Homo sapiens: one gene and its partner. The protein of the gene in region 2 purifies or fractionates together with the protein of the main gene of each other region. This does not show direct contact. Each region holds a gene or a part of one and is shown on either strand. Other genes may lie near its edges.

Region 1 (3,819 bases), on a different chromosome or scaffold from region 2:
TTGGGGTGTGCCACACTTCCAGCACATGAATGTGTTCTTGTTCACCTTCCTGGAAGCCCCTAAACTGAGGTCTTTGGGTTGTTATGAAGGCTTCATTACATAGGCATGGTTGATTAAATCACTGGCTATCGGTGATCAATTCAACCTTCAGCTCCTTTCTACCCTCTCAAGATGGGGGGCTGTAACTTCCAAGCCTCTGAGCACATGGTTGGTTCCTATGGCAACCAGCCAACCAGAATGTGGTAATCTAGGGACTTCTCAAAAATCACCCTATTAACATGTACCAAGGTGTGGCTGAAAGGGGCTTGTTATATGGCCGGGTGCGGTGGCTCACGCCTGTAATCCCAGCACTTTGGGAGGCCGAGGAGGGCAGATTACGAGGTCAGGAAATCGAGATCAGCCTGGCTAACATGGTGAAACCCCGTCTCTACTAAAAATACAAAAAATTAGCCAGGTGTGGTGGTGGGCGCCTATAGTCCCAGCTACTTGGGAGGCTGGGGCAGGAGAATGGCATGAACCTGGGAGGCGGAGCTTGCAGTGAGCCGAGATCGCACCACTGCACTCCAGCCTGGGCAACAGAGCGAGACTCCATCTCATAAAAAAAAAAAAAAAAAAAAAAAAAAAAGAAAGGGGCTTGTTATAAATAACAAAAGTCTGTTTTTCACCTTTCTTGCTCTGGAGCAGTTCCAGAGGTGTTTCAGGAAGCAAGGACAAAAGGCCAAATATTTTAACAGAAGATACTCTTACTGCTTTAGTCACTGAGGAAAGTACAAGGGTTATAGAAGCTGTGAGCCAGGAACTATGGAGGGAAATATATATATATATATATATATATAAAACGTCACAAGTGCTTAAGAGAGAAATTTATAATTTTAAACATCTACATCAGAAAAGAAGGATCTCAAATCACTCAAATCAGCAACATAAGATCTTACCTTAGAAACTAGAAAAGATCAAGAAAATGACAAATTCTTAGCTAGACTAACCAAGAAAATAATCAGGGACCTCACATCTGTAATCCCAGTGCTTTGGGAAAGCAGAGGCGGACAGATCACTTTAGAGTTCGAGGAGTTCAAGACCAGCCTGGCCAACACAGTGAAACCCCGTCTCTACTAAAAATACAAAAAAGTTAGCCGGGCATGGTGACACATGCCTGTAATCCCAGCTACTCGGGAGGCTGGGGCAGGAGAATTGCTTGAACCTGGGAGGCGAAGGCTGCAGTGATCATTACTGCACTCCAGCCTGGCAAGACCCCGTCTCAAAAAAAAAAAAAAAAAAAAAAAAAAAAAAAAGTGACACAAGGAGAAACAAAATATTCTGTGTACACTTAAAACAAGTAAAGAAAATGAATAATCAAATACCTTTCCACAAAGAAAAGCCGAAGCCAGCTGGGTGCCATGGCGCATGCTTGCCTATAATCCTAACCCTTTGGGAGGCTGAGGCAGGAGGATCACTAGAGGCCAGGAGTTTCAGACCAGCCTGGGCAACAGAGCAAGACCCTCTATTTAAAAAAACACAAAAATTAGCTGGGCATGGTGGTATGCCCTTGCAGTCCTAGCTTTGAGTTTGAAGGAGTCTGAGGCTGCAGTGAGCTATGATTGTGCCACTGCACTCTAGCCTGGGCAACAGAGACCCTGTCTCTAAATAAATAAATAGAGAATTTAAAAAAAAAAAAAGGAAAGGAAGAAAGAAAAGCTTAGGCCCAGGTAGCTTCACTGGTGATAACTTTTTTTTTTTTTTTTTTTTGAGACAAAGTCTCAACTGTGTTGCCTAGACTGGAGTGCAGTGGCACAATCTCGGCTCACTGCAACCTTAGCCTCCTGGGTTCAAGCGATTCTCGTGCCTCAGCCACCTGAGTAGCTGGGATTACAGATGTGAGCCACCACACCTGGCTAATGTTTGTATTTTTACAAAAACACAAATTTTACAAAAATTTACAGGGTTTCTCCACGTTGCCCAGGCAGGTCAGAAAATAACTTTTATCGGCTGGGCGTGATGGCTCACCCCTGTAATCCCAGCACTTTGGGAGGCTGAGGCGGATCACCTGAGGTCAGGAGTTTGAGACCAGCCTGACCAACATGGTGAAACTCCGTCTCTACGAAAAATACAAAAATTAGCTGGGTGTGCTGGCAGGCGCCTGTAATCCCAGCTACCTGAGAGGCTGAGGCACGAGAATCGCTTGAACCCGGGAGGCAAAGGTTGCAGTGAGCCGAGATCACACCACTGCACTCCAGTCTGGGCGGAAGAGTGAGTCTCTGTCTGAAAAAAAAGAAGATAACTTTTATCTAAAGAATCCAAGTTTTTTTAAATGATCAGGGCCCAGAGAGATATTAAAATGAGATAGCAATCACTTCCTATTCTCCCTTTTTGAGCTAAGATTCATCTATCAAAACTGCTTGCTATTGCCACAAGTGGGTAAGGATTAACCTAATAATGCCCTACCTGACGCTATATCCTACATCCTACAGCTTAATGTACAGCCAATCACTAACCAATGTTATTTCTGTAAATCAATGAGAATTCTTGATAAACAACTTTGTATGAGTCCCACTCCCTGTCCACATTTTTTTGCCTTTAAAAATCAAGTAAACTCTTCAAATCATATTTTGTGTGTTAGCCTCTTCCTTGCAGGTCAACACTTCTATAAAATACTGTAAAAAGAAATATTACCAACTGAGTGTGGTGGCTCACACCTGTAATCCCAACACTTCGGGAGGCCAAGGCTGGTGGATCACCTGAGGTCAGGAGTTCAAGACCAGTCTGGCCAACATGGTGAAACTCTGTCTCTACTAAAAATACAAAAAAATTAGCTGGGTGTGGTAGCACCCTCCTGTAATCCCAGCTACTCAGGAGGCTGAGGCGGGAGAATCACTTAAATCTGGGACAGGGAGGCTGCAGTGAGCTGAGATCGTGCCACCACACTCTAGCCTGGGCGATAGAGTGGGATTCTGTCTCAAAAAAAAAAAAAAAAAAAAAAAAATTACCAATCCATCCTTCACAAACTCCTTCAGAAACAAGATGAGGAAGGGGCTGGGCATGGTAGCTCACGCGTGTAATGCCAGCACTTTGGGAGGCTGAAGGGGGCAGATCACTTGAGGTCAGGAGTTTGAGACCAGCCTGGCCAACGTGGTGAAACCCCATCTCTACTAAAAATACAAAAATTAGCCAGATGTGGTGGTGAACACCTGTAATCCCAGCTACTCGGGACGCTGAGGCAGGAGAATCGCTTGACCTCCTCCAGGAGAACCAGGGAGACGAAGGTTGCAGTGAGCTGAGATCATGCCACTGCACTCCAGCCTGGGTGACAGGGTGAGACTGCATCTCAAAAAAAAAAATAATAATAATAATAAGGAAGATCTACAAGAGAAAATTTCTCAAATCTTGGGTTAAGATAAAGAGTTCTTAGATATGACACTAAAGCACAATACATAGGATAAAAAATGATAAATTTAATCTCATCAAAACTTAAAACTTTTGTGCTTCAAAAGGCACTGTTTAGAAAATGAAAAAACAAGTCACAGTCAGGGGGAAATACCTGGAAATCATATCTATAATAAAAGACTTGTACCCAGAATACACAGATAACTCTTACAACTCAGTAGAAGACAAACAGCCCAATTACAAAATAGGCAAATGATGTGAATAGATATTTCACCAAAGATCTACAAATGGGTAGTCAGCCCCTGAAAAGTTGCTCAGTATTATCAGTCTTTAGGAAACCACAATGAGATATCACTACATGCCCACTAGAATGCCTATAATCAAAAAAGACAAGTGTTGTCAAGGTTATAGAAAAAGCGAAACCCTCATACACTGATG
Region 2 (3,819 bases):
AACAGTTTAGAGAAGTATGAAGAACAGAAATCCCATGCACCTGTGCAACTATGGAACCCAAAAGATAGCCACACTGGGCTCACCTCGGTACTGGTAAAGGTGGGTGCCTGTAATTGGGCGCCGCCACAGCTTAAAGTGTTTCTTATCCATCACCATTTCCCAACGTTGCTCTTTGCCCTCTGAATCTTCATTCCCTTCTGTTTGGGCTTTTGGTTCTGGAGGGTGGTGCTGGACTCCAGAGCTCTGAAACATATTTGACATTTCTTCCAACCGCTTCATCTCATTAATAGATCTGTAAAGGGGAAAAAGAGCCATGGTGAGGTGGTTAGTCAGCCCTGTGAAATGAAGTGTCCACACAAAGGTCTGTGCAAGAAGGTTATACAGTAAACCACAGTATGTAGTATATAAACAGGACACAGTATAGTCAATAAAAACTGAGTTCCTGAGTTTGAATCTTAGTCCAACACTCACTAACTAGATTATTATTTAACCAGTTCCTATTTCTAAATCTATAAAATGGAAATAATAATAGTACCTATCTCGAGGTTGGCTATAAAGATTACAAAGTGTCAAGTGCTGCAGGGCGTGGTGGCTCACGACTGTAATCTCAACACTGGGAGGCAGAAGAGGGTGGATCACGAGGTCAGGAGCTCAAAACCAGCCTGATCAACATGGTGAAACCCTGTCTCTACTACAAACACAAAAATTAACCGGGCATGGTGGCGCGCAACTGTAATCCCAGCTACTCAGGAGGCTGAGGCAGGAGAATGACTTGAACCTGGGAGGCAGAGGTTGCAGTAAGCCGAGATCACGCCACTGCACTCTAGCCTGGGCGACAGAGTGAGACTCTTGTCTCAAAAAAAAAAAAAAAACAAAAAACAAAAAACAACGAAAAAAAAGTAAGTGTCAAGTGCTTAATATCTATGGCCAGGCACAGAGGCTCACTCCTGTAGTCCCAGCACTTTGGGAGGCCAAGGCAGGAGGACTCCTTGAGGCCAGGTTCAAGACTAACCTGGGAAACACAGTGAGACCCTACCTCTAAGAAAAAATTTAAAAAATTAGCCAGGCATAGTGGCACATGCCTGTACTCCAAGCTATAGGCTGAGATGGGAACATCACTTGAGCCCAGGAGTTGGAGGCTGTAGTGAGCTACAATTCTGCCACTGTACTCCAGTCTGGGCAATACAGTAAGACTCTGTCTCTTTTTTTTGTTTGTTTTTTTGAAACAGAGTCTCACTCTGTCACCCAGGCTAGAATAGAGTGCCATGATCTGGGCTCACTGCAACTTCCGCCTCCTGGGTTCAAGTATTTCTCCTGCCTCAGCCTCCCCAGTAGCTGGGACTACAGGCACGCGCTATCATGCCCGGCTGATTTTTTGTATTTTTAGCAGAGACAGGGTTTCACCGTGTTACCCAGGACGGTCTCAATCTCCTGACCTCATGATCTGCCCGCCTCGGCCTCCCAAAGTTCTGGGATTACAGGCGTAAACCACCGTGCCCAGCTACACTGTCTCTTAAAAAATAAAATAGGCTAGGCGCAGTGGCTCACGCCTGTAATCCCAATACTTTGGGAGGCTGAGGCAGGCGATCACCTGAGGTCAGGAGTTTGAGACCAGCCTAACCAACGTGGAGAAACCCTGTCTCTACTAAAAATACAAAATTAGCTGGGCACGGTGGCACATACCTGTAATCCCAGCTACTCGGGAGACTGAGGCAAGAGAATCGCTTGAACACGGGAGGCGGAGGTTGCAGGGAGCCAAGATCGTGCCATTGCACTCTAGCCTGGGCAACAAGAGCGAAACTCCGTCTCAAAATAAAATAAAATAAAATAAAATAAAATAAAATAAAATAAAATAAAATAAAATAAAGCCAAGCACAACGGCTCACGCCTGTAATCCCAGACTTTGGGAGGCCGAGGTGGGCGGATCACCTGAGGTCAGGAGTTCGAGACCGGCCTGGGAAACATGGTGAAACTCCATCTCTACTAAAAATACAAAAATTAGCTGGGCATGGTGGTGGACGCCTGTAATCCCAGCTACTCGGGAGGCTGAGGCAGAAGAATCACTTGAACCCAGGAGGCTGAGGGTGCAGTGAGCCAAGATCGCACCATTGCACTCCAGCCTGGGCAACAGAGTGAGACTCCATCTCTAAAATAAATAAAAAATAAAATAAAATAAAGTGTTTGTTATCTGGCACGTAAGTAGCCCTCAAATGTTAACTATGAAGGTTTATGGTTTTAAAATGTCAATTGATATCTTTTGTCCGTTTTTTATTGGGTTGTCTTATTATAAGTATGTATGTATTTTTCCCCTTTGTTTTTAAATTGATAAATTCACATACCATAAGATTCATTCTTTTACAGTGTACAATTCTGTACTTGTTAGTATATTCACAAGGTTGTGCAACCATCACCCCTAATTCCAGAACATTTTTATCACCCCCAAAAGAAACCTCTATCTATCATTAGTCACTTCCCATTCCTGCCTCCTCCCAGTCCTAGGCAGCCACTAATCTACTTTCTGTCTCTATGGAGTTGCCAATTCTGGACATTTCAAGTAAATGGAATCATATGATATGTAGCTTTTGTGTTGAGCTTCTTTCACTTAGCATACTTTCAAGTTCAACCATGCTGTACTTTATTCCTTTTTATAGCTGAATAATATTCCATTGTATGGATAGATCGCATTTTGTTTATCCATTCATCAAATAAAATTTGTTTCCACTATTTTATTATAGTGCTATTATAATAGCACTATATTATATTACTGCTATTATAATACTGCTGGCCGGACGTAGTGACTCATGCCTATAATCCTAGCACTTCGGGAGGCCAAGGTGGGTGGATCACTCTGAGGTTGAGTTCGAGACCCAGCCTGGCCAACATGGCAAAACCCCATTTCTACTAAAAATACAAAAATTAGCCAGGTGTGATGGCAGGAGCCTGGAATCCCAACTACTTGGGAGGCTGAGACAGGAGAATTGCTTGAACCCAGGAGGTGGAGGTTGCAGTGAGCCAAGATTGCACCACTTCACTCCAGCCTGGGCGAAAAGACAAAACTGTCTCAAAAAAAAAAAAAAGAATACTGCTATGGACATTTGTGTACAAATCTTCATATAGACATGTTTTCAATTCTCTTGGGTAGATTCCTAGGAGCAGATTTGATGGATCATGGTAACTATGCTTAACTTTTTAAGCAACTGCCAAAATGTTTTCCAAACAATTACACTATTTTATATTCACATCAGCAATGTTTGAGGATTCTAACTGCTCCACATCCTTGGTTCCAATTGCCCCACTTGTTATTGTCCATCTTTGTTATTCCAGCCAACTTAGTGGGTGTGAAATGGTATCTCATTGCGTCTTGACTGGTATTTCCCTAACCTTTTCATGTGCTTATACTAGTCTTGATAGTATCCTTTCATGCATAAAAGTTTTTAATTTTGATGTTTATTTTTTCTTTGATTGCTTGTTTTTGGTGTTATAGCCAAGAAACCACTGCCTAATCCAAGGTCATAAGAACTTATGCCTATATTTTCTTCTAAGAGTTTTAGAATTTTAGCTTACATTAGGTCTTTACCCCATTTCAAGTTAATGTTTGTGTATGATAATGAGGTAGGAGTCTAAACTCATTCTTTTGCATCTGCTTCTCCAGGTGACCCAGTGTCATTTGTCGAAAAGCCTATTCCTTCCCCAGTGAACTATCCTGGCATCCTTGTTGAAAACTGACCAAAAATGTAAAGGTTTATTTCTAGACTCTCAATTTTATTCTAACAATCTAGATGTCTATCCTTATGCCAGTACCACAATGTCATTACTGTA

What was found.
Region 1: the proteins of STARD7 (region 2) and ZNF346 purify together in Homo sapiens (affinity purification with mass spectrometry; one large-scale study listed by BioGRID and IntAct). This does not show direct contact.

What each region holds. Positions count from the first base shown.
Region 1 is NC_000005.10:177,025,514-177,029,332, reverse strand, and holds part of ZNF346 (zinc finger protein 346), read right to left. Parts: intron 1-3,819.
Region 2 is NC_000002.12:96,195,258-96,199,076, forward strand, and holds part of STARD7 (stAR-related lipid transfer protein 7, mitochondrial isoform 1 precursor), read right to left. Parts: intron 293-3,819; coding exon 84-292; intron 1-83. UniProt on the Homo sapiens protein: May play a protective role in mucosal tissues by preventing exaggerated allergic responses.